Linked DNA regions of Homo sapiens: all the other regions are linked to region 1. The links come from fine-mapping of genetic effects on gene expression. A gene starts in region 1. Each other region holds a variant in brackets. All regions are shown on one strand. Distances are from middle to middle. Region 1 holds the start of RNF144B (ring finger protein 144B). Region 2 overlaps RNF144B (ring finger protein 144B). Region 3 has its middle 45 kb from the start of RNF144B. Region 4 overlaps RNF144B (ring finger protein 144B). Region 5 overlaps RNF144B (ring finger protein 144B).

What was found.
Region 2: its variant is fine-mapped to the expression of RNF144B in whole blood (TOPMed, PIP above 0.99).
Region 3: its variant is fine-mapped to the expression of RNF144B in skin (TwinsUK, PIP 0.95).
Region 4: its variant is fine-mapped to the expression of RNF144B in whole blood (TOPMed, PIP above 0.99).
Region 5: its variant is fine-mapped to the expression of RNF144B in whole blood (TOPMed, PIP above 0.99). The same link has a PIP of 0.9 or more in esophagus mucosa, lung and sun-exposed skin.

What each region holds. Positions count from the first base shown.
Region 1 is chr6:18,384,861-18,390,766 of GRCh38, forward strand. RNF144B (ring finger protein 144B) reads left to right here and starts at 2,490. Exons shown (of 8, transcript NM_182757.4): 1 at 2,490-2,770.
Region 2 is chr6:18,409,575-18,415,480 of GRCh38, forward strand. The region is part of intron 2 of RNF144B (ring finger protein 144B); the gene reads left to right. Among named protein-coding and RNA genes, the nearest start is that of RNF144B, 25 kb to the left of the region's middle. RefSeq lists an enhancer at 5,058-5,906. The variant A/G (reference allele first, on the strand shown) is at 2,772.
Region 3 is chr6:18,339,634-18,345,539 of GRCh38, forward strand. No RefSeq gene overlaps it. Among named protein-coding and RNA genes, the nearest start is that of RNF144B, 45 kb to the right of the region's middle. The variant CA/C (reference allele first, on the strand shown) is at 2,655.
Region 4 is chr6:18,423,162-18,429,067 of GRCh38, forward strand. It overlaps RNF144B (ring finger protein 144B), which reads left to right. Exons shown (of 8, transcript NM_182757.4): 3 at 4,420-4,524. It overlaps LOC124901271 (a long non-coding RNA gene), which reads left to right. Exons shown (of 2, transcript XR_007059487.1): 2 at 372-831. Among named protein-coding and RNA genes, the nearest start is that of RNF144B, 39 kb to the left of the region's middle. The variant A/G (reference allele first, on the strand shown) is at 3,216.
Region 5 is chr6:18,468,346-18,474,251 of GRCh38, forward strand. It overlaps RNF144B (ring finger protein 144B), which reads left to right. Exons shown (of 8, transcript NM_182757.4): 8 at 1-525. Among named protein-coding and RNA genes, the nearest start is that of MIR548A1HG, 51 kb to the right of the region's middle. The variant T/G (reference allele first, on the strand shown) is at 3,289.

The DNA of each region.
Region 1 (5,906 bases):
GGGCTCCCCAGCCATGCTTCCTGTGCAGCTGCAGAACCATGAGCCAATTGAACTTCTTTTCTTTATAAATTACCCAGTTTCAGTTATTTCTTTATAGCAATGTGAGAACAGATTAATATAATCACCTTCTCAGAGAAGACTTGATTCTTTTCATCAACTCCTTTCCTTTAAATTCTTCTTCTCTGTGCTCCCAATAGCACATCATGCTTAAGTCTATCATATCACACATTATGTATCACTCACACATTGGGTACAACTATCAGTACCCTGATAATTGATTTGCTTGTCTTACTCCTTCCCTGGATTGAGAGGTCTTTGAGGACAGGGAGACCATGTCTAATATCATTATCTTAATACAACCTAGCAGATTGTCTGGGAGGAAATCAATAAATGCTCCAGAGAATGAATATCCATTCACACTGTAGACTCCTTAGGAAGATCTGAGAGAGTTTGTTCACATAATATTATAGCATTCAACGTGTTTATTTAGTCTTATTAAATTTTGACTGCAATTTAAAAAAAATTTGCATAGTTGCATGGTTGAAAATAATCAGTGGTGATGTTACTCAGTTGTGCAAAATATTTGGGATAATAGGCAGCACTATTCGTGCTTATGTTCTCATTCATATTGGCAGCAGCTTCTTCCCTTATCCTGTTAACAAGAGATTATAATTTATGAATGGTAATTTGAAAAGTGGACTCTGTGTTGAACTTTGGTTTAAGGCTCAGGAGATTTGCATCAACACCAATGAATAAACTAACCTCTTAGAGGTTGCTTTTTATCTTTCCTAGTTCCTGTCCACCAAAATGGTCACTATACCAAGAAAATTCCTTGAAATAGATTATCTCAGAACCTAAGCCATTGCTAAATCTGAAGGTTGGACTTCCTTTGGGATGGTTTTCATTTACATTCACCTTCCTCATGTAACTCAGATTTAGGTCTCATTCTAGCTTGGCCTGTGTCTGGTTTGGGCCAATCTCTTAAATCTTCCTGGACATCAGTTTCCTTATTTTTTTTTTTTTTTTGAGACAGAGTTTCGCTCTTGTTACCCAGGCTGGAGTGCAATGGCGCAATCTCGGCTCACTGCAGCCTCTGCCTCCCAGGTTCAAGCGATTCACCTGCCTCAGCCTCTCGAGTAGCTGAGATTATAGGCACCCACCACCACGCCCAGCTAATTTTTTGTATTTTTAGTAGAGACGGGGTTTCACCATGTTGGCCAGGCTGGTCTTGAACTCCTGACCCCAGATGATCTGCCCGCCTTGGCCTCTCAAAGTGTTGGGATTACAGATGTGAGCCACCGCACCCAGCCCAGTTTCCTTATTTTTAAAATCAGGTTATTTGCTAAAATAGCTAGGAAGACTTTTCAAGCTCAAATATCCTACCGTGGGTTCTTTTATCATCTTATTGCCCCTGTCCTTTTTCTCTTCCTCCCTGACTGGTGAGCTGGTCCTCCTACCTGCCCTAGCATGGCACATGTAGATACACTGTGTTATTCAGCACTTTGCTTTGACCTAGAGGTTTTCTTCAACTTGGAGGGCTGAGAAGCAATGTTTGCTTGTGTCGTTTGGAATGGTGCCTGTTGGCGTGCACAGATCCTTTCCACAAAGGGCCTGTGAGTCCCTTCCTTTTAGGAAGCACATTCCTGACAGTGGTTGCAAAAGTAGAGAGGGATTGCAGAGTGAACACAGATTCTTGTGTCAGAGCGACATTCCTAAATGGCAATGTTCAGCAGACTTAGGTGATTGTGATCTATGGGGGATATGGGGAATGAGTAGGTATGCGATTCATTATGAATGTCACACAAATGAAGTGTCCAAGGGTTTGGAGCAAGGAAGCACTTCATAATACCTCACAGCTTCTGGATTATTTTGTTACATTTTTGTTTAATTGAGGGTACAACCAGTTAAGTTACAAAGCACTTCAAGTGAAATCATTGTTTCATCAAGAAGTGTCTGTATTTTATGAGGTAAACTAAGATTATTCCCGATTTGATTCACAGGTATTCTAATTTCATCATTAGATGCAAAAGGACAAGTGAGGTACAAGCTGTTTTTTGATGAGATGTGCATGGGAAGTGTTTCTATAAAACAGTTGTCTGCCACGTGGGAAGGCAGGTCTGGGCTGTTAGAAGTAGAAGAAAGAGATTTAAAGAGCTGGGAAGGAGGGAGAAAATAAAGAAAGGTGGCCTGTGAGGATATGTACAGACAGAGAGGTAGCAGGCGCTTAAGGCCAAGAGGTGAGCTGTCCCTGTCTGGGCAGAAGAAGTGCGCTAGGGGCAGCTGCCTGCACCCCCTGCTCTGAATTCCTGCAACAGCGGTCCCAGGAGAACAAGAGACAGGTCCTGACAAGCAGTAGAGTCGGTGCAGCGCGCCCGGGTTCGGATAGGGTTAAGGCCAACACCTGCAGCTGAAGTACGACCCACATGGGAAGTAGGAAGTGCGGCGCCTGAGCTTCCTGTATAAATAAACGCGCTGCTACCGCTGCTGGCGAGCTGTGCCCCACGCTCCCGCTGCAACAGTCCCGGGCATCGCAGCTGCCAGTCAAGGCTAGGAGGCGGTCGGGGACTCCGCCTCCTCCCGACCCGTAGGTCTGGGAGCGCAAGTCCTGTTGCAGTCTTGCAAAGTGTAAAGCTGTCAGCCGCAGAGCACGGAGGAAAGACGGAGAGAATGGAAGAGCTCCTGTCCGGTGTGCCAGCAGCCCGGACTGGCGGTGAGCGCGAGGGAGGCTACTGAGAAGCCCGGCGACGGAGGAACGCAGGTCTGCTGCCAGGTAGGTTTAGCGAGCTTTTTAAAGGCTACAGGCGTTGCAAGACCGGAATGGTGTTGCTGGACTAAGGAAAAAGGACAGGAAACTCACTGTGACACCACAATTTTTCGATTTTCTGTCTCTAGTGCTCAAACCATACAGAACTGAATTCATTCTGAATGCCTTAAACACCTGTTAACTTAGAAGAAAAATGCCTTTGTTAAAGGAAAGTAGTTTCATTTCTAATAAAACAGTTTCTATAATAGAATGTATTGTAGAATCCGAGATTAGACCAGACCTCTCCCTAGGTCTTAAGGGGAGACCAAAAGTTGGCATAATCTCGGATTATGCATTATAGTGCTTATTTTATCAGGTAATTGCTAATGAAACAGTGAAACTCTGATACTACGAGAGCCATTCTCAAATTTAAGTTAAAATCGAACTGATTGTCGTTTGTGCAGGGAAAAGGTAGGTATCTTTTGCTTATTCTTTCTAAAACACCTTTTGTTTTTCTCATGAGTTTCAAGGATCCTGCTGTAAGTCTACTCCTCATGCATATACACTATTCACATAAAGATTTCCCAGAAATTAATTCCCTTCTCTGGGAAATGTTCTTTTTTCATGTTCTCATAACAGACTGTCAGTTTCATATTGCTTTCTGCCACATGTATCTTATCAAAACATTAGCTCTGAGGTTCTTAACAGGACTATCTCTGCTCTTCCGATTTGGCATTTCTGGACGTTTATTTGAACATTGAGAGGTATAAATTAAATGGCAATGTATCTAACATTTCTGAGGAAGCAGATTAGGGGGTGTCTGTGCCCAGAAGCAAAATAAATGAACTTTGGGATGACTCAGTTTTTAGGGTGTGGGTAAGAGGCAAAAGGAACCTAGCCAGTCCTAACTGAGTTGCTGGCTAATTAGAGTATCTGTCTGCCGCAGCTTTCACTGAAATGAGCCTCTTGGTCCCTTTCACATCAAATCCCTCTGTGAGTCCCTCCTTCTCCTTAGTTTATCTTTCCTTCACAACCTGGGTCCTTTTCATGGACAGCAGTGCCTTAAATACTTCTAAAACTATCCTGAGGGGGAGAAAAACCTATAGCAGATCCACAAAGCCACTTGTAGATAATTGTATTATGAAATCCAAGGTCATGGTTTCACACAACTCCTGCTCTGCCCTTGCACACCTTTGACTGGCATTTTTTTTTTTATTTTTGTCGTGGGCATAAACTTAGAAAAGTGGGAAAGGGAAAAACCTCAGTTTCAAAAGTAGTCTCTGACTAATTAATTATCTTGATTAAAAAAAGGTAAACATATATAGTGAACGTGAAAAAGATGTTGAGTAGTAGAATTGGGTTGCTTGGCTTTTTATTTAAAACAAACAAAACTCAACCAAAAAAACCCCCCAAAACCCCAAACAATCACCCTAGATAACTTTCTCCTACACTACTGTGCTGGAAGTCGGGCTTGAGTGTGGTCAAATCCTGCCCATTTACCCAGAGTTTTACAAATATTTACAGTCATCTATGCCAAATATCTTTGTGCTGAGTCCCAAAGAACATTCTCAGCATTCAAAAGGCCCATTCTCATGAATGGTTTCAGTTCATTGGCAATTTAAAGGCATTCAGGCTTCCAAACTAGGTCAGCTTAAGACATGTCTTTTTAAAATAATCAGTTTTTGGGTCTCAGATTATGAACCAGGTTTTTGGAGCCAAACTCTACAGCAGAGAGAAGAGTATGCTCTCTCTGGAAAGAAAAAGCTTATTTTATCTACCTGGTATGACCATTTAACTTCCTGAAAAACGTCTTTCTCCTCAGTAGTATGAATATTTTTCATCTGAGGAGGTGCACTTAAAATTTCCTTCTTGAAAAGTCATTTCAATATTTTAGACGTTTAGAAACATTTATATGTATGTCAGAATCCTTTCTCCGAAGTGTTTCTGCTAATCCTGGCTTCTTTGTTTCCCCTGGCCTTGACTTTATGACATTACTTTCTTGGAGAGTGAAGTTTTTAGTGTTTGAAATCTCCAGTTTGAGATAGAGGTCAGGAATCATGCTGAACCCAGATGTTACTGAAGGAACAAAGTCTGAGCAGTTTTGGGACTAAGCCTACTTTGTACAACTGATTATTTTGGATGTGGGAAAAGGGCCAAGCTGCCAGACAAGTCATGCTTTTCACTTGGACTTTGGGGAATAGGTATCTGTAGCCATTGCTCCTAAGTACTGAAACATTTCTTTCAGGGGTGCCTACCTTAATTTATAGAAGCTCCTTACCTGAAACAAATGGTCAATATTTTCAGCTTGTGAATTTCTGGAAGTGAATACAGATGAGAACCAGGCCTTTAATATTTTCTCTCCTCCAAGTACAATCAGAAAAGTTATCCACTCTACTACTGAGTGACTGATTTGCTAGGTGCTAGGTTAGATGCTGGGATATAAAGATGGCTAAGATGTGGTCTCTGTCCGGAAGAAATTCTCATAAGGTCAGAAGTGACTTGGGTCTAGAGTGGTAGTTCTGAATTCACATTGCTTTGCCAGATTATAAAAAGTACTTCGATGTTTGTCACCTCGATCATCTTAATTTTCTTGGTAGTGTTACCTTGACCATTTGACCATTAAGAGGTATATGACACCTAAGTTAATTTATGTAAATATTTTAATTCATAATTTTTACCTTTAGGTGTATGTGGGAGGTCTTGGACTAAAGTTTTAGTTTTATTAACTTTGGCATTTGCTATTTACCCAGTCGGTGAGTACTTTGGAACCTAATGCATCATACCATAGTTGTTATTAAAAAATGGATAACTATATATTAAATGAGTAAAAATGACCAATGCTTCTGCAACGTGGAATGAGGATCTTCTCATCTATGAGCAGATCTCTTTCTTGAATTCAAAACACAGCAATCTAAGTGAAATAGACTTTTCTTATTCATAGCTGGAGATACTTCTGATCACATGGCTTGGAGTATTTATTAAGAGCATACTTTGAAAGCCATGTCCCATTGTTTTCTAAATCTTTTGAAGTCACGAGTTTGAGTCCCAGCCCTTCATCAACTTGTTCTTTGTTTTTCTTGGGAAGATAAAACAAGACAACTCGTTTCTGTCTGTTGAACTTGTGGCTGAAACCATAAACCCACACATTCTCCTGCATATGATT
Region 2 (5,906 bases), 25 kb after region 1:
TTTTTTACTTTTTGAGATGGAGTTTTGCTCTTGTCCCCCAGGCTGGAGTGCAATGGCACGATCTTGACTCATTGCAACCTCCGCCTCCTGGGTTCACGCAGTTCTCCTGCCTCAGCCTCCTGAGTAGCTGGGATTACAGGCAGGTGCCATCATGCTGGCTAATTTTTGTATTTTTAGTAGAGATGGGATTTCACCTTGTTGGCCAAGCTGGTCTCGATGTCCTGACCTCAAGTGACCTGCCCGCCTTGTCTTCCCAAACTGTTAGGATTACAGGCGTGAGCCACTGCGCCCCGGCCTACATAACATTTTTTACTTCGATCATAGGCGTAACAAGTACTTTAGGCTTGGTATTCGGGTAAGGGGTGATGTTATAATGTGGAACAGAATTTTATTTCTTTTTACAAAGGAAGTTGTGAAAAGATAGTTTGGTGATCTGTGCTTGTATGTTGTGTAGACTTTTCCCCCCTTAAGCATGCCTTTGCCAAAGTTTAATTCTTCAAACCACATATCAGAATGTAATAGGCTGGCCAAACATGCAAATCATGACCAGAGAGCAGGCAAAAGTTGGTTTCTGATGAGAGAACTTTTCCATTGTTGCCACTAAGTCACCAAAGTTTATGTATTTCTTCTTTTGAAGTTGCACCCTTATTCCAATATTCTCTAAGTCTATTCCCACCTTTGTCCAGACTCTACTGATCCATTTGGTACTAGTGTGTGCCAGGCATGGTGTTAATTGTGGAGCAAGTGGCAGTCATCAGACACAACCAGCCCTGCTGTTATGTGGGCAGTAGACCCTCTGATAAAGGAAGTACAATATGTTATAAAGCATACAGAAACCCACCTAAAATAGACTCAGGGAGGTAGGAGGTTTCCTAAGGGCTGAGACTGAAAGATAATAGGGATTGCTTGATGGCATTGTTGATGGGGCTGTGGGTGAGAACAGTGCTCCAGGGAAAAGAGGCCAGCCACATGTGAGAACACAGAATCAGGGAAGAGTGACCTGCTGAGGAACCAAACCGGAAGATGTTCCTGGGACACATTGTTGGAAGTGTGGGTGTGCTCAGGCAGGAGGCCAGAGAGGCAAGCAGAGACTAGATGGAGGGCCTGGTATGCTGTGTTAAAAAAACATTATGGAGCCACTGGAAGGCTTTGTTTGGGAATGAGATAGGGAGGATGGCGTCGGTACAGGATAGAGAATGGACTGAAAGTGGGCAAGGCTGGAGCAGGAGGAGGGAACCATGGCAGGCTGAAGCAGAGCTCGGAGAACAATGTCCTTATCAACTTAGGATACATGTGTATGGCAGACTGCAGTTTTGATGCCTGGAGTATTTAAATTATTTTTGTGCCCCAATTTCTCTTTTTTCCTATCCATTTGGGATACTGTCAGCTTTCTTTTCTTTTTTTTTCTTCTTTTCTTTTCTTTTTTTTTGAGACGGAGTCTCATTCTGTTGCCAGGCTGGAGTGCAGTGGCGTGATCTCTGCTCACTGCAACCTCCGCCTCCCGGGTTCAAGCAGTTCTCCTACCTCAGCCTCCTGAGTAGCTGGGACTACAGGCACGTGCCACCACTCCCAGGGAATTTTTGTATTTTTAGTAGAGACGGGATTTCACCATGTTAGCCAGGATGGTCTCGATCTCCTGATCTTATGATCTGCCTGCCTCGGCCTCCCAAAGTGCTGGGATTACAGGAATAAGCCACCGTGCCCAGTGAAAGTACATTTTTAAAAATCATGGCTAGTACTCATAGAAGAAATAGGACCCTAAAGTACAAAATAATCATGTTTCAGGGCTCTCTTGGTTTATTACATTGAAGATAATTTTTAATTATAAATGTAACACATGCTAATTTAAAAATAAACCAAAAAACCTCAAAAAGCATGTGCATGATTCATATATATATATATATATATATATATATATATATATTTTTTTTTTTTTTTTTTTTTTTTGAGACGGAGTTGTGCCCTGTCGCTCAGGGTGGAGTACAGTGGTGTGATCTCGGCTCATTGCAATCTCTGCCTCCTGGGTTCAAGTGATTCTTCTGCCTCAGCCTCCCAAGTAGCTGGGATTACAAACATGCGCCACCGCACCCAACTAATTTTTGTATTTTTAGTACAGAGGGGGTTGGCCAGGCTGGTCTCGAGCTCCTGACCTCAGGTGATCTGTCCACCTCAGCCTCCCAAAGTGCTGGGATTACAGGCGTGAGCCACCACGCCCAGCCCACCTGTACTTTCTTCTAGACTCTTTCCCTGTGTACTTACGCACATCACTTAATAGAGAAATGGGATCTTTAACTACAGATACTTTTAACTTGAGTTTTACAAACATAGTACATTGTGGACAAGTTTCTGTGCAAAAATATACAGACCAACCTTCCTTTTTAAGTATTGTATAGTGTTCTATGATATGGTTGTATGAAAATTTATTTAACTGGGCCCCTCCTAAATAATGGATTTTAAGGTTGTTTCTAGTTTTTGCTATTATGAATACATTTTTTTTACTTATATAAATGTGAAAATACCTGTCCTTAGGATAACTTTTTAGAAATAGAATTGCCTAACCAAAATAGATGTACATTTTAAATCAGTATGTGTTACCAAATTACTGTTCCAAACTGTTGCACCAGCTTGGCAACTCCACCAACAGAGTAGGAACAGAGGCCTCTCTTTTGACACTCCGGGTATTTTCCAACTTTTCACCTTCTGTAATCTGGTATGTGAAAAGAACATATCTCATGGTTTAATCCATACTTCCTCTTTTTAGGAGGAAGCAA[A/G]TTGTTGTAAGAGAAGCTCATCTCATGAATCTATCTTTAAAAAACATACAGTATGCTCAGTGCCAGTATAGTTTCAACTGATTTTATACCTTGGTATTAATAGTAATCAAGTTAGAAAAAAATGGGCCATATCTAGAAAAGTATATTACACATAGAAGACATGAATGAATGAAAAAATGGTGGTGTTCAGACTGAGGGAGATGCCTTATCACACAAAAAAATTCATGTCCAGTGACAAAATGTTACTAAGTAGGTAAAGGAGGTTTAAAAAATTTAGGCAAGTTGAAAAAGGGTGGTGAGTTAACTAGAAAATTCAGTTTTTTAAAATCCCATTTTCTGTATATTTCAGTTCATTAAAGATTGGTTATATAAGGCTTATCTATGTGGATTCCAGATATGCAGTGTACCCCTTGGAATCAGGTGAGACACAGTGCCTCATTTCCATGGAAATACATGGCTCTGTGTTAACTGAAAGCCTCCATGGTTTTGAATCATTTCCCACCCACAGTAAGGAGGTCTTTTTGGTTTGACTCTTCTGGAAAATATGTGTGAGGTATTTACTACATGAATGTAGGGTATTTTTTCAATCTGCTTAAACCTCATTTTATTCATCTGTTTAAAAAAATTACGGAAGGAAAAGCAAGGGCATTTGAGTACCTTTCATATAATATGTAATATGCAAGGGTACTATTTTTTCCCCCATTTACTCTTCCAGTTTACAGATAAACCAATTCAGAGTTAAATAACTTGCCCAGGATCTGTAATGTTAATCCCTACATCATAGTGTCGTTTGGAAGAAATAAAAACAAGCTCTGTGAAAATATATAATGTATGGCCTAGCACATAGTATGTGGTTCCTAAATTTTTTTTGTTAGCATGAAAATGGATGAAGGCCCATATTTGGCTTTTGTGATCTTAACCTGAAATGTCTAAAGCTTGACAATAGCCTATAAAATGCAAAATTGACAACTGGCTACTGATTTTATATACGTAAAAGTTTAGTCAGTACAAAACAAATGTAAAGAACTACTGGTTTAAAAAATCCAAGGAGTTTTTCAGAGAACAGAAAGTATGTAATCAGAATATAGTGGTGGCCATGGCCTCATATTAGAGATTGAGCATGAACATGAGTGTTCTGTGAACTTTCCACTGTGTGATTTCGGGTAAGTTATTTGAGGAAACCAAGGCCGAGACATTCAGAGGTCTGATTTACACAACTGGAAGTTCCCAGTGCATTTAGCATATTTTCAGATGTTGAAACTGAAGTCAAGGTTCAAGGCCAGGCATTCTGCCTCAATGACTGATGTTCTCCCACCCTCCAGGCGCATTGTGTCTGTGGAAGTTACTGGTGTTCTTAAGAGGACCTCAGTCTGACGGTTGTTTCCAAGTGATTCTTCTGTGTTGAGGGTGTTTAATGCATGGGTTACTGCAGAGCACAGAGACCTTTTCTGCAAATGGAAAAAAATATTATAGCTTAACATCTGCTTTCCCTAGGTAATGTGTTAATTAAAGATTGTTTTAATATGGAATGATGTCTAGCCTTTGAAAAACTTTATCTTACGGTTTATGGTATTGATAACCTTCAGAAAAGGAAGACTGGTTCAAATTATGTCAATTAATATGAAAAAAGCCCACTCAATATGAAGCCCCTTGACTTCTAAAAACTTGCTTTTTAGAAAATGTTAAAAAAAATTCCAGGTTTTGCAGGATAAATCCTCGGGGGAATATTGTGAGGTGAGGAATAGTCGTGGTCTTGATGCAATGTAACTTATAATTAGAAAGATGCTGATTTTGCTGTGGAGTCATTGAATATCATTATTTCAAAATAATTTTGAATAAAATGAGATTTCTAATAACCAACCTAGTCATTGTCCAACCTTTTCTACTTTTTCAGAGTTCAGTTCTCTTAAATCTAAGAGATTCTCTTTTGTAATGTAGCTCAAGAGGAAGTTTAAGGGTTAGGTCTATTCTTAACTGATGTCCCTTGTTCCTATCATTCCATGTATAGAAATAATATCTTCTTGAGGAAACTGTTAAGCGTCACTCTTTCCCAACTTTTGGGTCATTAATATGAGCTATTTTGCATGCTGGCTTTGTAGGTTATATCCTGTAGGAAAAAATGTTGGTGATGAGTTAGCTTTATTCTGTCACTTATACAGTGTTAATATTCTTTTAAAATTTCAAAAATTCAGATAGTTATTAATATTGCTACCACTAGTTTTATTTAAAAATGTTTTAATTTGTATAGATACGTAGTAGGTATATATATGATTAGTTTTAATTAAGATATTATTTCATTATAATTTATTCAAACTGGTTTAAATACTGAGACAGATTTTATTTAAAATATAGGATTTCTGCTTTTAAGCAGTATTAAAATCTGAGATTTGATGAATGGTATAAATTTTATCTTTTGCTTTTAGTTTTAAAATATTGTACAACATCCTGTTTCTATTCTTGAAGGTGAAAAAGAACAAAAACTTTTAAAAAGATGGAAAAAATTGTACAACAGTTTGTTATGAAACAAGATAAAGATTTTTACAACAAATACCTGTAGAGTTATCCCTTGGTATCTTCAGGATATTGGTTCCAAGCCCCTTCCCACTCCCCACCCCAAAGATACCCAAATTCATGAATGCTCAAGTCCCTTATATAGAATGGTGTAGTATTTGCATGTAACCTATGTACATCCTCCCATATACTTTAAATCATCTTTAGGTAACTTATAATATCTAATACAATGTAAATCTATATAAATGGGTTTTCTACTGTATTTTTTGTGTATTTCTTATTGTGATTTTAAAAATATATTTTCTGTCCGTGGTTGGTTGAATCCATGGATGTGAAATCTGAGGACGGGGGGCTGACCGTATACCAACTATCTCTTAGATTGTGCCTAAGTCCTTTTGTGTTGATATAACAAAATACGCGAGACTAGGTAATTTATCAACAACAGAAATCCACTACTCATAGTTCTGAAGGCTGGAAAGTCCAATATCAACGTGCTGGCAGGATTGGTGTCCCGTGATGGCGGCTCTCTGCTTCCAAGATGGCGTCTTACTGTTGCTTCCTCTGGAGGGGAGAAATTCTGTGTCCTCACGTGACAGAAGAGATGGAAGGGCAAGAGAGCACTCC
Region 3 (5,906 bases), 45 kb before region 1:
CTCAATAAAAAAGAATGAAGTGTAGGACAATTTTAAATATTATTATTTATTGCCATCAGTGAAAGTCACTACCTGTGTTTCCTTTTGTTCACTGGACCCTCTTTTAGGCATGACTGCATATCACCTCCTTATCTGCTCTCCTCACAACTGTGATGCTGTCACTCACACTTGACCCAACCTACTTGCTCTTGGCCTTATAAGGGAATGCATGTCTGGTAGAAATCGTAGCATCTCTATCTCAGCTTTGGTTAAGGGTGGAATTCATCTCCAGAATTGTATACCTTCCAGTACTACTTTATGCTGTTGGGCCCAAAGCTGTCCATAACCCACACAACACCACCCAGTGGCTTATGTTCTAGGATCAGAGCTATAAAATCCAGAAGGCTCATGATGCTGCAGGTTCTTTGCCAGCCCATCTAGACGTCCCTGCTACCGTCTGAACTTTTATGTTCTTCCAGAAATCTTATTGTTAGCCAGGTGCAGTGGCTCATGCCTGTAATCCCAGCATTTTGAGAGGCCAAGGCTGGTGGATCACTTGATGCCAGGAGTTGGAGACCAACCAGGCCAACATGGCAAAACCCCATATCTACTAAAAATACAAAAATTAGCCAGGCATGATGGTGCATGCCTGTAATCCCAGTTACTCAGGAGGCTGAGGCATGAGAATCGCTTGAACCTGGGAGGCGGAGGTTGCAGTGAGCCAAGATCATGTCACTGCACTGCAGCCTGGGTGACAGGCTGTCTAAAAAAAAAAAAAAAACAACAACAAAACACTCAAAATCTTATTATTGAAACCCTAACCCCTAAGGTGATGGTATTTGAGGGTGGGACCTTTGGGAATTGATTAGAGTATGGGAGCAGAGTCCTCATGAATGGGATTCATATTCCTATAAAAGAGATACCAGAAAACTTGCTGCTTCTGTCTTCTGCCTTGTGCAAACACAATAAGAAGTCAGTACCTATGAGCCAGAAATTGGGCCCTCACCAGACACTGAGTCTGCCTTGATCTTGGACTTCCCAGCCTCCAGAACTGTGAGAAATAAACTTGTTGTTTATAAGCTACCCGGTCTATGGTATTCTGTAATAGCAGCCTGAATGGACTAAGACTCTCTACTTCTCCACTTCTCTGGGATTTGTTTTTGTGCATCTAGTCCTGGTTTTTTTTTTTTAGACTCTTTCTGTTTAGCTATTGGGCACAGAGTCCAGTATTGCTAAGGCCTCAGTGTTTGCCCCAGGGCCTGGCAAATAGCATTGGACCTCCAGAACCCTGGAGCTCAGGCAAATTTCCTTGAGGCTGAACTATAGTGTGACTCTTCTTAGATGGGTTGTTTGGGATTGGCATCACGTGATGTCCCTAAGCAGGTAGATAGGAAAAAGCTGATGTTTAACAGCCATTTACCATTGTTTTCCCTAAAGACAGTATTTTCAGGCCACTGGCCAAATGCTTAAAACTCCTTGGAGTAAGGCATTGGGTTTGCAGCTCCTTTCTCCCCCTGTGCCACTACTCAGGAAGAAACCTAAGGCAGGACAAGGAAATTGTGTTGTGTTTCCCTGCATGAGTTAGAGACATCAGATTCTTTTTAAAGGCAGCATCATGTCTTGTCATTCCTTAAAGTGGGTGGACCTCAGCCACTTGTCCTGACTTGTTGAGATTTGCACTGAGAAGCAGTATGTCTGAATGAAACTCCTGTCCTCTACTGAGACCTCAGGAAGCCCTGCCTTTTCTCCGAGCCAAAGATCTCCACAGCTCCACCACCTCCAAGAATCCTTTTACAGCCAGCCGCAGTCACCCTCTGCCCGGCCTCCTCTCGCCCCAGCACGCACCCCCACAACTGGCTGTTTCTTCAGTCTCCAAATCAACTTGGAAGGTTTCTTCGGCTGCTTTATTTGTTTTTCTTTTTTGCATGGTGCTCTGCACCATGCAAAACAGTTTGGTTCTCTCCATCACTGAGTGAGGCAGTATAGTGTGTTCATGACAATAGGATTATATCTGACTTGCAGATTAAGTGAAATAATATACGTAAAGCCCCAAGCCCAGCACTTGGTATACATGGTAGGGATGTAATAAACACTAACTTGCTTGATTCTTTCTCTCTCTGTCTCTCTGTGTGTGTGTGTGTGTGTGTGTGTGTGTGTGTGTGTGTGTGTTTCTGGCAGCAAGTGATGTGTGGACAGGCTCTTCAACTTTTGCTTGGTGAGCAGCATGATAGTGTTATGATTAAGAGAGCAGACCTTGGTCCTCTACTGTTTGGGTTCAGATTCATTCTCTAGGTAACTTTGGCTTTGACTAAGCAAACTTAGTCAATTTACTTAGCCTCTATGCCTCCGTTTTTAAAAAGTCTGTAGAGTTAGCACTAAGAATAGTTCCTAGTCATAGCACTGTTATGAACATTAAATTAGTTAATAGATGAAGTGCTTGTAATACCATGTGCCTGGTATGTAGCACTAAGTGTTAAATCTGGGAGAAATGTCCTGTTGTATTAGTAATAAAAGTGGGACCACAGAGGCCATGTTGTATAAAGCAGTGGGCTTTCATTCCTATGCAGCATTAAGGGAGGTGAGTTCCGTCTCTTTGGGAAGACCCAGGTCATATTGGAGCTAAATTCATGGAATAGGGGCTTCAAAACTGGAGTCAAAAATCCCTTGAGTTGTCT[CA/C]AAAAAAAAAAAAAATCCCTTGAAGCAGCTTTGCTGGGATCAGTATTTCTGACTCAGTTGAGTAAGACAGACACATTTCTCAAACCCCATCATAAGAATCACCTGGGGCACTTATCAGACACACCGACTAGGGCCTTGCCCCAGACCTACTGAATCAGAGACTTCAGGGAGGGGCCTTGGAATCTGATGTCTAACAACCCACACAAATAGTACCACCTGGAAACACTAAGTCGCCTGGGAAGCTTAAGAAAATGCCTGTTGCCTGGGTCTCATGCGCTGGATGTTCTGATTTGATTGTTTTGGGGTTTTGGCATACAGGCATGGGACCTTTTTTTTTTTTTTTTTTTTTTTTTGAGCTTCTCCACTGTATCTAATGTAAGCCAGGGTTGAAAACCACTAAAATCCTATATAAGTCAGTATTTTTCAGAATCTGTTGGGGGTGCGTGTTAAAAATGTAGATTTATAAGCCCCAGCCTGCTGAATTGGACTCCTGGTAGTTGGGGTAGAATGAGGGTGGGAATAGAGGGAGTGAGGCCCTGGAATTTGCATTCAAAACACTTTCCATATGATTTTTCTGCATGCAGGACTTTGAGAGCTACCTGCTGAATAGTGGTTTCCCTTAGTAGGCATGTGTGAAAATAGCTGAATGAATGACACCTAATCATTGCAGTATTTCCTTTTCTTCTCAACCAATCTGTTAGAAATTTCTTTATTCAAGTCAGGTGCAGTGGCTCACGCCTGTAATCCCAGCACTTTCAGAGGCCGAGGCAGGCAGATCACTTGAGGTCAGGAATTTGAGACCAGCCTGGCCAACATGATGAAACCCTGTCTCTACTAAAAATACTAAAAGTAGTCAGGCGTGGTGGCAGGTGCCTGTAATCTCAGCTACTCAGGAGACTGTGGCAGGAGAATCACTTGAAACCGGGAAGTGGAGGTTGCAGCGAGCTGAGATCAGCCACTGCACTCCAGCCTGGGCAACAGAGCAAGACTCTTGTTTCAAAAAAAAAGTATTCATGTACTGTAGGGAAATTCATTACCTTCATTACTTGCTCTCTTTTGATTGGTATAGAGTTTCTAGTAGTTGCTTCATTTTTAATATATTCTGATTTACCCTGGCAGAAATATATGGGAGTTTTTTATTTACATTCCTGGCCATGTGAAGGTATCAGTTCAGATGATGAAACCTGATCAACATACCACAGAACACGACTGGCTGAACAGGTTGTGTAGTTCGGCACAGAGTAGCTGTATTCTCAAGGCTGTTAAAGCAAGGGTCTGACACCACTAAGTGTTAGTAGTGGGTTGATATCTATTATGGAAATGGATATGTAAAGCAGCCAAAACCCGATGGCATGAAATAGTTACATAGTCAACCTCTCTTGAGATCTAATTCATATTCCACTCACCAATAAACTCTGATACTTGGACTTCCCATATAGCTTGTCTAGACCCTTGCTGTTTAAAGTGGGGTCCATGGGCCAGGAGCACTGGCATCACCTGGGAACTTGTTAGAAATGGAGACTCTCAGACCCCACTCCAGCAAGCCTAGCATGTTGGGTTTGCCTGATGATGTGGCATCCTGTTTTTCTATATCATACTCATTTCTATTAGTGTGAGTCAGCATCCATGAGTTTGATTAACGTCAAGACACTGATGAAGTCATTGCTGAGCTTGTGAGGCTGAGAGCCGACCCTGGGCAGAGGTGAATTTATCAAGAGAATATCCCTAAAGGGGTGGCCCATTGGCTGCCTTCAGGTGACCTCCCTTCTTGTGGGGTGTACTTTAATTTTAGCATTGAGACCCACTACAAATTGCCTCAGATAACAGCAGGGGGCTCATTTCCATTCTGGCATGTGCACTCCAGTGAACTCCCCTTGTTCCCAGATGCATGAACATGCTTCCTCAAGCTGCTTTTCAGCCAGCCTGGACTTCAGCAGTTTGTGAGAGTCTTTGCAAATGGTGAAGAAAGAGTCTTGTTGAAATCCTATTCGGTACATCTGTCTATGAATTATTATAACTTTTTTTCAGGCTGGGTACCGTGGCTCACAACCATAATCCCAGTACTATGGGAGGCTGAAGGTGGAGGATTGCTTCAGTCCAGAAGTTTGAGACTGGCCTGAGCAACATGCAAAACCCCATCTCTAAAAAAAAATAAAAAAATAAAAAAAGCCAGGCATGGCGGTGCACAGCTGTGGTCCCAGTTACTTGGGAGGCTGAGGCAGGAGGATCACTTGAGCCCAGGAGGTCGAGGCTGCAGTGAACTTTGACTGCACCACCGCACTCCAGCCTGGGTGACAGAGCTAAAAACAAACAAACAAACAAAAACAACAAGGATTTTTTTTTTTTTTCATTTTAAAGACTACTTATTCAGAGCAGTTTTAGGTTCACAGCAAAATTGAGAGGAAAGCATATGGGATATTCCATATACTCCCTGTCCCCACACATTCATGGCCTCCCCTGTTCTCAGTATTACCCACTACCTCTGGTATGCTTAATAGTTTTTAATTGAAGTACATGATTTATTCACACTTCGTTAGTTTTTTTTAAGATTAAGAACATTTATTGCATTTATTTTCTTTTTTTTTTAAATTTTTTTAGTATTTATTGATCATTCTTGGGTGTTTCTCGGAGAGGGGGATTTGGCATTAGTTTTTACCTGATATCATTTTTCTGTTCTAGGATCCCATCCAGGATACCATACTCTATTTAGTCATCATCCTTCCTTAGGCTGATCTTGGCTAAGTTTTTCAGACTTTTCTTGTCTTTGATGACGTTTTAATTTTGGGGAGTACTTTCAGAGTATTTTTAGACTGCCCTTCCATTGGGATTTGGAATTTGTTGGATGTTTTTCTCATGATTAGATTGGGGTGCTAGGATTTTAGAAGGAATACTGCAGCAGAGTGTCTTTCTCCTCACATCATATCAGGGGTACCGACTACCTCTTTAAAGACAATATCTTCAAATACAGTCACATTTTGAGGTGCTAGGGGTTAGGACTTTAACATGTGAATTTTGGGGGAACACCATCAGGTCCATAACACTCCTCAAAGGAGTCTCGGATAGATACACATTTTTGCAAAACATTAACAAGAAAGGGCAATCATTAGTTATGTTTGTTTTTTTTTTTTTTTTTTTTTGAGACAGGGTCTTGCTTTGTCACTGAGGCTGGGATGCAGCCTCAAACTTCTGGGCTCAAGTGATCCTTCCCCTGCTAGCCTCCCAAGTAGCTAGGACTACAGGAGTACATCACC
Region 4 (5,906 bases), 38 kb after region 1:
GTGAATGGGGGACTCTCCATTTTCCCTGAGAGCAGCTTAGACAGGTGATATTGTCCCATTTTATAAATGAGAGCACTGTAGCTAGAGAGGTTAATGACTGGCTCAAGATGTAGAGGAGACTTTAGAGCTTGTGCTTCAACCTACATGGCTGGAATCCAGTTTCATTGGCTATAGATTATAATGCTTTATTTTTTCTTAGAAAAAAAAACTTTAGGTAGGGCATAATTTAGTGATAGAGAATGAGGAACTATATAGTACGTTTTTAAAAATATACATATATTCCCTGCCCACTCCTGTGATTTGTTCTTGGGTAGGTACATAGTAGCTTTGTCTTAACACTGTGACCCTTTTTGCCATGTCCATCATAATAGGTGAGAACACCTTATATGAAGAATGCCTGTGACTTTGGTACATCGGAATCTGATACCCTTGAAAGGGGTCTAGGAGACACCTGTTTCTGAGTAGATTCCATTGCATACAATTCATAGACTCTCAGAGTTGGAAGAGACAATATGAGTCGTCTGGTTCACCAGGTGTTTGGTTACATTTTTGGTTAGATCCCATATGAATCCTTAAAGGTTGTGGAGTGAGTTTGACGAACAATCCTTATTATTTTGCATGACCCTTCATGGCCTAAAAATAATTCTGTGTTTTACCAAACTAAGTAAAATGTTGACTATACAAAAGAAAAAGGTTTTTTTCCCTTGGGTCATTTGGGTTTTGAGATGTTCTATTTGAAACATTTTCCTTACAATTTGTTACCTGTTAAGAAAATTGCTTATTTAAATATCTGTTGAATGCTACTTAATAAATGTAACTTTCAAAATGTGACTAAATGGTGGTAGTTTTCTTTGTTAATAGTGATTATTTTATTTTGCCATTGTTGCATTGCTATAATTTGTTTTCATTTTCTTTGTTTCTCTCTTTATAAGCTAGATGCCAGTTTTCCCCCCTAGAATTGTTAACCATTTACCTGTGTTTTGTATGACATGCACATGGGATTCATGTGAACGTTTTCACTTATTTTGCACTTTTTAGCCAGAGATACAGAAGAAGAGAGGGACACTCGAGATTAAATGTTTTAGTGAAAGTTAATGGGCAGCATATAACAAGCCTGGGGTACTTGAAAATTCAGTAAAAAGCAATAACTAGGGCTGGTTGTTTTCCCTCTTTGCCTTTGAATAGAAATGCATGCCCACACTGATGGAATGTCAAGTGCCTGTGCTGTAGGACTACTTAGCAACCTGCCCTTACAAATCTCTATCTTGAACCAGTGTTTCTTAGCATTAAAAACAAAGGGTATGTGTACTTAAACCCTGGAGTCAGTGTACAGAGGTCTAACTTCTCACCCAAAATCGTGGGTCATATAATATTGTGGCCAGGAGAGTGCTTATAGGAAGTTTCAAAATTCATTTAGTTGATATATTGTGGTTTGTAGTGTACCTAGGAACATTACATTATTAGTAAGAGGCACATCCATTATAAGCTCTTGGGAAGGTGTATATTTCAACTTAACACATTTGCAGTTATATTTGAAATGAATGTGTTTGCCTATAAGGACTCACTTAGTATCTTTAGTTCCTATTTAATGCTAAACTTATTCTGTAGACCCAAATATTTCTAAGAGCCTTGCATAGAGGCACCTGGGATATTCTGTTACAAATATCTGTTCTGTCTACACAGCTTCTCCACCTTAAGTGGTTTAACTGGTGCTTTGCAGGGAGTGGAGAAAGGATATCTCAGAAGGTCAAAGGATTAACATTTTCCCACAAAGTCTTTGATGGAAAGTCTAAGACCAGGAGAAGAGGAGTAATAACATGACCTATTATTCTGTAATTTGCAAATTCATGAAGGGCTTCCATATATAAATTTCACGTGTATGTGTGTATGTGTGGGTGTGTGTGTGTGTGTGTTAAAACCTGTGAGGTAACTATAACAGGTATTATTGTCCCTACTTTTTAAATTAAGGAAAGCAAGTCTAGGTCATAGGCTAAGTCATTTTCCCATTGTCACCTAGTAAAGTGGACCCTCCACCCAGGTGTTAGGATCTGAAGTTCTTTGCATTGTTCACTTTGTTTTCCTCAAACACCTTCCCCTTGAGCCTGGAGACTATATCTTTCAGTCTTTTTACTTAAATTTCTTTAAGTGGCTGCTGGGGGTCAGTGGGAAGATCAAGGCAGTAACAATGGAACAGGTGTGGCTGATGGAAGGCTGAGATGTCCTCAGCAGCAGAACAGGATGGACAGGCTTTCACACTGTTTATTCATTTGTCCCCTGGCAAAACACTCCTTTTGGTGAGCCGCCTTGACTGTTCCCCTGGGTGTTCGCCTGCCCATTGACATTCTTCCCCATATTTCCTTGCTGCTGCTCTCTTCTATGTCCCACTGCTGCTGCTGCTGGATACCATGTTTGGCACAGTAAATCCTAGAGCAAGTGATTTTTCACCCTTCTGTTGAACAAGGAAGTCAGGGTTAAAACACAGTAATTATATGGCGGTCAAGTGCAAGAGAGGAGTGACTGCAGAGGATCCCTGTTCCCAGATACCTTTTATTCCTGAATTTATACTAAATCATGAGCATTTGTGCATGTCTTTTAAATATCATTTGAAGACTCTTTTCATGATTCTGCACATTCTATCGCATAAATTTAGCAACATTTATTTCAGTGTTCTATTTTGGGTATTTAGGTTATTTTCTAGTTTTTGCTGTGATGAATATTATAGAAAAAATTAACTCCTTGGAGAAAAAAACTGTTAACTATTTGAAGAGATACAAGTCTGGTTTAAATGGTTTGCCCTAGTCATTGATTCATCAGTACATTGTAAGTTATTTATAACCAGATAAATACATGATTAGTTTTCTGAAGTAATATAATAGTGATACTAGTTTTATTTTCAGGTGGAAAAAATGAGTAAAGATGGTCAATAACAGGGATAGATTTCACAATTACATCATCAATATTCTGACCCTAGAATTTTACTTTTGGCTCATGCTTTTATAAAAAGTTGGTGCAACAGCAATATTTTTAATGCAGTAAGTTGATACATAAATGTATAAATCTGAAAAATCTAAACCCAGTTGTAAATAATCACCACTTTGTAAGAGTCGTTGCTTCAGTGGCTGGCTTAAGTATTTTTGGTGGAATGTACTCCTCAACATTTGAACTTGACTTTTTTTTGGTCATGCATGTAGAAAAGGTTTACCGATTATGAGCAA[A/G]TTAGTAGAAGTTGAAGAACCAATTACTTAGAGGTTTATTTCCTGGAACTACTGCCTTCAATTTCTTGTGCAGTTGCATAGAGAGGAATAGGGTGAGGCATTACAGGTTTCCATAAAGCTATCAGTCCCTCTCTTAACTTTTCAGTCAGACTCACATCTTCACCCACTGTCCAACATCCAGACACAACAGGCAGTGAGCAGACCAACTTTGTTCCTGGTGTTCTCCCTCTTCTCTCTGGGTTTCTTTTTTCTTTTCAGTTTCTTCTCTGGGCTTCTTTTTTTCTATTCAGTTTCTTCTCTGGTTTTCTTTTTTCTATTCAGTTTCTTCTGTGGGTTTCTTTTTCTATTCAATTTCTTCTCTGAGTTTCTTTTTTCTATTCAATGTCTTCTCTGGGTTTCATTTTTTCTATTCAATGTCTTCTCTGGGTTTCATTTTTTCTATTCAATTTCTTCTCTGGGTTTCTTTTTTCTATTCAATTTCTTCTCTGGGTTTATTTTTTTCTATTTAATTTCTTCTTTCCCCAGGGGACCAGTGCCTTTTTTCCTACTCCAACCTCCTTAACATGGCATCCACCAAGGCCCATATTTTTGAGGTCTCATTGTCTTTGGGATAATGTCTTTGGGACAATGTGTCTCTTGTCTTTGGGAAGCAAGTTATCTTTGCTGTCCCCAGTCAGCAGGAAGTCACCTGACTTTCCCAAATTTGACATTATCTTTTCCAGGTATGTTTGCTTTTAAGCGTGGTCCTAGAAATGTCACTGCCTTAAGCTTACTTTGATTGTGTGGCTAGCTCAGTGCAAGGGTCACAGCGTTCTGTTCTAGTTTTGGGTAAACTTTGATGGAGAGGACCACTAGGTAAAAATGGAATTAGGAACTCATATTTTTTTTTTTAAAGGAGGGGGCCTTTAGGGTTAGAAAATAGTGTTTTTTCTTTTCCTGATCTATGGTGGCTGAAATGTGTGAGCATAGGGAAATCTGACTTGAATAAACTCTTAAGATGAAGTCATACATAATTAATTGCCTGTCTCTGCATTCTTTCCAAAGTGATGGCTCTTAGTATTCACACTTGTGATAACTTATGTTTCTTGAGTACAAGAGCCTCAGGACAGCCAATTAAGGAAGAAGACACAGTGGTGGTTCTGTTATGTAACCTTTCTGCTACTGTAATGGAATGGGCAATTGTCTTTTTTTTCTTAACTTCCAGTGCCTGAAACAGTACATGCAGCTGGCAATCCGAGAAGGATGTGGGTCTCCCATCACTTGCCCTGACATGGTGTGCCTAAACCACGGGACCCTGCAGGAAGCTGAGGTATGAATGACTACCATCATCTTCCCCTCTTTCCTATTTATGTTATTTATTAGGATCTTGAGTCTTTATGTATTTCCCTACCAGGGAGTCTAGCAAGAAAATACAGAGGTTAACTTTTTAAAGGAGCACTTTATTGCAGCTTACCTTTGGACTTTTTATACAAACTGTTAAAGCTGTCATTTATCTCAGTTCTATTTACATATACCATCTTGAGTGTTGAAGAAGCTATAGAATAGGCAAAGTACCAGAAATCAAATTTACCAAATGTGAAGTTAGGAGGCTGATATGATTTGGCTCTGTGTCCCCACCCAAATCTCACCTTGAATTGTAATAATCCCCACGTGTCAAGGGTGGGACCAGGTGGAGATAATTGAATCATGGGGGCGGTTCCCCCATGCTGTTCTCGTGATAGTGCGTTCTCCTGAGAACTGATGGTTTTATAAGGGGCTTCCCTGCCCTTTGCTCAGCACTACTCCTTGCTGCGGCCATGTGAAGAAAGATGTGTTTGCTTTCTCTTCTACCATGATTGTAAGTTTTCTGAGACCTTCCCAGGTCTGCAGACCTGTGAGTCAATTAAATACCCAGTCTTGGGTATTTCTTCATAGCAGTGTGAGAATGGACACATACAGAGGCTGAATAGTGAATGGTCTTGTAAATTGTAATACCCTAAAGATAAATAGACCATGGATTAGCTGCAGTTATGGAAAATATAAACTATTGTGATTCCACAATGATAGCCTGAGTTGAACCATTTCCAAAGAGTAGAGACCTTTCAATTGATCTGTAGCAGGCATCTGAAATCTTTTTCTTTTTTTTTCATATCCCCTCGTTTGTTCAATCACCGGTTATTGGTTTGCCTTTAAATCTTCAGACTCTGCTCACTTTAAATTAGAATATAATGAACTCTTGTTTATTCTTAGGGTGTTTGTAAGCCTCTGAACGACATCCCAAGAAACAGATGAAATCAGTTGTTCATTTAGCAAACACAGAACACCTGCTTTGCACCAGGCACCACCACCCCCCAGTTGTTTTCATTGCCAGTATACTACCTAATCCTCTCAACAGACCTCATGAAATTGGGTGTTGCTTTCAGATAGGGAAACTGAGGCCCAGAAGGTTTAAGTAACTTACCCAAAACCACATATCTAGAAAGTAGAAGAGATAGGATTCTAATCCATTGCTTTCTGACTGCCATAATTACGTGGCTTTGAGTAGAATTAGGTTGGCCAGGTGCTGTGGCTCACACCTGTAATCCTGGCACTTTGGGAGGCCAAGGCAGAAGGATTGCTTGAGTTCAGGAGTTTGAGACCAGCCTGGGCAATATAGCAAGACCCCCATATCTACAAAAATAAAAATTAGAAAATTAGCCAGGCATAGTGGTG
Region 5 (5,906 bases), 83 kb after region 1:
TATTTGTTCATGCCATGGGTATTTGCTTTGGACTTGGAGTCTGTACTTTGAAAGAGGCCTTTGAAAAACAAATAATTCTGTGTGAATTTTCTTGTAGCGTGCTTCATGAAAATATCTACTTATCCAGGTTTGCAAATGTACATGTTCATTTGAATGTAAATCACCATTTCTTGGAACCCCACGTTTTTTCTTAAAAATTATTCTGAATTAAATGTATATTTCTTTAGCCTTCCCTACACAGTACTAATAAAAGACTTTTCTTTCTGTTCATGAATGGATGCCTTTATGTGATATAGAGTCATGTGTGTATGTGTAGCTTTAAGGGCAATTTCAGAAATGCATTAGATGAATGACATTTTATAAAGCGATCACAATTGATATCTACAGGCTATTATGTCTCATGTTGATTCATGATCCAGGAAGTTTTATGTATTTAAAAAATTGCTATCGTGTTATATTTTTCCAATTTTTGGAGAAGAAAATAGCTGTTTAGGCTCTCTAGCCACAATAAATGTAAGCAGGAAATCAAGTGTGTTAACCTTTGTTGCGCTGCACAATTCTAGGCATGTTCAGTTTTATCCTTTGAGAACCAACCAAGTTACTGTTAAATCCTAGGTTCTGAATTTACAAAATGTACCAGAATTTGCAATACCATCTATGGAAATAACTCTTGGCTACTTTACTTCTTAAAAGAAATAGGGTCAGGGGGTCAGGTGTGGTAGCTCACGCCTATAATCCCAGCACTTTGGGAGGCCAAGGTGGGCGGATCACCTGAAGTCGGGAGTTCGAGACCAGCCTGGCCAACATGGTGAAACCCCGTCTCTACTAAAAACACAAAAAATTAGAACCCTGTCTCTACTAAAAATACAAAAAAAAAAAATTAGCTGGACATGATGGCACATGCCTGTAGTCCCAGCTACTTGGGACGCTGAGGCAGGAGAATTGCTTGAACCTGGAGGTGGAGGTTGCGGTGAGCCAAGATTGTGCCATTGCACTCCAGCCTGGGCAGCAAGAGCGAAACTCGGTCTCAAAAAAAAAAAAAAGGGGGTGGGGGGGTGGCAAGTGTAATGCCTTTGTTACACACTTTCTTCTTTGTAGGTGTGATAGTCCACACTGCCAGTGCATAGGAACTCATCATTATCCAGAGCAATAACCAATAATACAGATCTTTGATCATTCTAATAAAAAATGCTGCCAAGTGTCAAAGCCATTTGTTCTGTACAATAAAGGTTGGACTAAACGCTAAGGTCAGTTCTAACCTTCCAAAAGTCTGCTAGAGGCATGTGTTTCCTTGTTATGATTTTTTAAGAAAGGATTTAAGAGTGTTAAGGTCATTTCCATTTGAATTAGTATTCGAGGCAGGTCTTAAGTTGGGTGCCAAAGATTACTTAACAACTAGAGCTTGTGTTTCCATAAAACCGAAAGCTCACTCTCCTGTACTGGTGTTGAAACCTTTTTATTGAAGGCTGGATGCTTCTAAAATGGTACCTGCATACAAAGGTTTACAACTGATGTACAATTCAAATTTCATTTTCTAATCATTCAGTTTTGAGGAAATCAATAAGATCATTTAAAAATACTTTTGGGTTATGGTTTCTTAATTTTCTTAATCATCTCCTAGAATGTCAACATTATTTCATTTTGAAAGTGTGCTTATTGTTTGCTAACCTTGAATTTGCATTCCCAAAGAAATATTGAATGAACCATTTTATATAGCAGTGATTTTAATCAGTGCCCTAACCAGCAAACTCATTGCAATTTAAGTTATGAATCTGATGATTTGGAGGAGAATAATAATTAGGTTTTTCTGTAATTCAATTATTTTCATTTGTTAGATAATAAATCTAGTTTTCTTTAGACCCTAAAGATAATGCCCAACACTATGAGAAAAAGGAAACGAATCTGCTTAAATGCGTTAATAGCAATTATAATGTTTTATTTGTATATTTTTACGTAAACTAAAGAACTTTTGAGAACAATCCTTTGAGATAAATGGAGCAGATTAGATCCATTTTATGAAGAAAGCAATGTTTTGTATTCATGTCTTGCTTAGGTTCATACTGATGAGTGACAGCCAGGAAAAGAATGCACTACGACTTGAAAGTTCTATAATGCTCTTTCATTAGTAATTTCGAGTCTTTCACTCCCAAATCTGTGAGTCCTAAGAGAACATAGTACCCTCTCATTTATCTGCATCAGTGGAGATGTATGTAAGAACATATTTCAAATCATCACTTAGAGGCTGTGTTTTGGTGGGTACCCCTGAGATCCCCTCACCTCACTCCTTGAAGTTTGGCTAGAGAAGGACAGTTGATGGAAGGTAACTAGAAAAATAACAAGGCGGTCTGCATCTGACTTGCTAGTATTGGAAGCAGAATTATAGCTGAATCTATATACTTACCCCAAATGCCCAAGTGCTTGCCTCTCCCCTACAAAGTACATTCTCACAAGTTCCTTTTGATATTTACAATCAAGATTCAAAGGGACTGTTGACTCAGATCTAACTCCTTTCTTATTAACACTGCCAACTTGTACTCAAATGTGTATTTGTAGCCTACCATTAAATCAATTGGCAGTTTCCAAAGCTAGAAAGGGGACTCCAAGTAATGAACTTAATTTCTCATACATAAAGAAGTCCTTTCAATTCCATTTTCTGCCTTTATGATTTTCGATTTTTATCAGTGCTATATTTGCCCTCAGTTTTGCTTTTTTTTAGCTGTTAAATCAGGAATTCGGGCTTTCGATGAGAAGGAAATTAAGTTGAGTGTTGGTCGTTTTATCTTGTAGTTCCTTAAGGACCTGACATGATTCAAGAAGATATATTTCCTTTTGTGGGGAGTGGAGGGGTGGTTAACATCAATAGTACTGAACACATTCAGATAAAATGAACATGAAGGTATTTTTGAGGTAAGTTATGGGACTTCTGATTATTGATCAGCCTCGACTTATGTTTTGAAGACAAGCCAATTCATTTTAAAACAAGTTCAGAAATCCACATACCACCCTGTGTGGTGTGTCCTGAATTCCAGCCTGGCCCTGGGACTTTGGCACCACAAGGGCATGTGAACAGGGTGCTGGGAGAGGGCTGGCAAACGTGGTGCCACCCTGGCCACAGAACAAGTGTGCAGCGTCCTCTGTCCTCCCGGCCCTCTGCCAATCCAGGTGGTGTGGGGTTGGAGGCAGACGCCCAGCTGGCAATAAGATGGCTTCAGTTCTAGGCCTGGCTGTGCTCTTGACTGGTGGTATGGTCTGGGGCCAGCCCTTTATTGTATAGCGTCATTTCATCCC[T/G]ATCTCAGGTCAGGCTTAGGTGGATCGAGTAAAATCCCGAATGTCAAAGTGCTTCTAAGTGTTGGTTGTTAGGGAGGTGTGAGGAGAGCGAGCCACTGAGTTAGGTGTGCTTGCAGCTGTTAAGTGTAGTTGATCAGTTTTTTGTTTGTTTGTTTTGAGACAGTCTCGCTCTGTTGCCCAGGCGGGAGTGCAGTGGTGCTATCTCTGCTCACTGCAAACTCCGCCTCCTGGGTTCAAGCAATTCTCCTGCATCGTCATCCTGAGTAGCTGGGACTACAGGCGTGTGCCACCACGCCCAGCTAATTTTTGTATTTTTAGTAGAGACAGAGTTTCACCATGTTGGCCAGGCTGGTCTTGAACTGCTGGCCCCAAGTGATTCATCTGCCTCGGCCTCCCAAAATGCTGAAATATTACAGGCATGAGCCACTGCGCCTGGCCGAGTCAATCAGTTTTTAGCCAGGCATTGTTCTGAGAGGAGAAGAGGGGGCAAACTTGGGGCAGGAGGAGGGTAGTCCTGAAATACATTTCAAGCTTGTCTGTGTTGAGAGAAGTATGACCCCCTCCGTAAATGTATTTTCTTTTTAGGTTTAAAAAAAAAATCCTATGTCATTGTTTAACAAATATTTCACAAAATAGTTAAATCTAAGTATATGCTTCATTAAAATGAGGGGAATATGTGGAAAGAAATGCAGAATTTATATCAACACATTGATTTTGGGGGGAAGGTTTATGGTAAGAACTTAGTGTTTAAATAATGCCTTATAGTATGCAGTTTCCTTTTGCTCTTCATACTACTCTAGAAAGTAGATATTACTCTTCACACCCCCCCACCCCCAATGTACAGATGGGAGATGAGACTCAGGGGTTAGAAGACATGGTGCAGGTCGTACAGCAGGTGAGTGGCAAAGCTAGAACTTGAACCCACATCTTGCATGAACTAACTCGGGACCTGTTTGCATTATTTTAATTTTTAAAAGCATCTAAAAACAACACATTTATTACTTCAGTTTCTGTAGATCAGAGGTCTGACGTGATGTTGCTGGGTTCTCTGCTCGAAGTTTCACTGGGCTAAAAATCAAGGTGTTGGCCAGGTGTGGGGGCTCATGCCTGTAATCCCAGCACTTTGGGAGGCCGAGGTTAGCGGATCACGAGGTCAAGAGATTGAGACCATACTGGCCAACATGGTGAAACCCTGTCTCTACTAAAAATACAAAAATTAGCCGGGCGTGGTGGTGGGCACCTGCAGTCCAACTACTCAAGAGGCTGAGGCAGGAGAATCGCTTGAACCCAGGAGGTGGAGGTTGCAGTGAGCTGAGATTGTGCCACTGCACTCCAGCCTGGCCACAAAGTGAGACTCTGTCTCAAAAAAAAAAAAAAAAAATCAAAGTGTTGGATGGGGCTGTGTTCTCCTCTGGAGGGAGGCTCAGAGTCCTATTCCAGGCTCTCTGGGTGTTGTCAGAATTCAGTTCCTTCTCACACCTTCCACGTGGCCCCCTCCATCTTCAAGCTTGCAACAGCTCATTGAGTCTTTCTCATACTTCAGACCTCTTTGGCTTCCTCTTCTGACACATCTCTGGCTTCCATTTTACATTTTAATGGCTACGAGAGTATGTATATTTGTCATTTTCAAAAGGAAATTTAGCTTTTTAAAATCTGTTCTGTTTCCCAGCCCCATGAAGGCAAAGAGTTTTCACAGGTAATAGAATCTGCTTGAAGACATCACAAACTTGGGGAAGAGTTAGCAAAATCTAACTTCTACCTGGGAACTGTTGACTTACCGTTGGAATTGGGTCTAGTATAGCCAAGGAGATCAGCAATTCTGCTTCTGGCTAGTGTCCTTGGGAGGTCCATTTGGTCTATATGTGGGACAGATTTTCTTAAATGGACTCAGAAGAAAACCTGATCTGAGCTTTCTAAACAAACCTTCAGAAGATTCAGGATTGGATTGAATCTTGTTTTGGATTCAGGAAGGACAACTCTTTTAAGAGCTGGCTTAAAGTACAGGATGGTGTTTCCATTCAAGTCAGACCAGTAAAGCAGATGGATCTGAGTTAACCAGTCACTGCCTGTTGTTGAGGGACGTGCAACAAAAGTCAAGGTCATTGCCTCTTCCCCTCTCCCACCCCCAGTGCAGCAATACAGACCCGGCCAGATGCTGTAGATGTTTTAAACTAGCATAGCCATGCTTTTGACTAGAAATGAAAGACTGGAGGGAAGTTTGATAGCTCTCCTAGTCTCTTGTGGACAAGTTACAATTTCTCTTGGCTTCGGTTGCCTCATCTAGAAAATTAGGAAGTAACTGTTTTCTAGGTTCAGTACAAACCTAACATTTTGACTAAGATGGAAAAAACCTCCAGCCCCCTCTGTGAGCTCTATATGCATGAAACTAGTTAGCTCAAGGGAAATTCTCCTTCTTAGACAAAGTAATCCTCAGAAGCAGCTTCCAGATGCTGTTATGGATAATGCCAGAAGCATATGAAATATATTGCCAATTTACTTAAAATGAGCAAATTCAAAGAGTAGTGGTTGAACCTCATGGTTTATCTACAGCTCTTGGTGGCTAAAAAGACCTATAATCAAAGTTGCTTGGGGAATTTCCAGGGACATGTTTCTTCTAG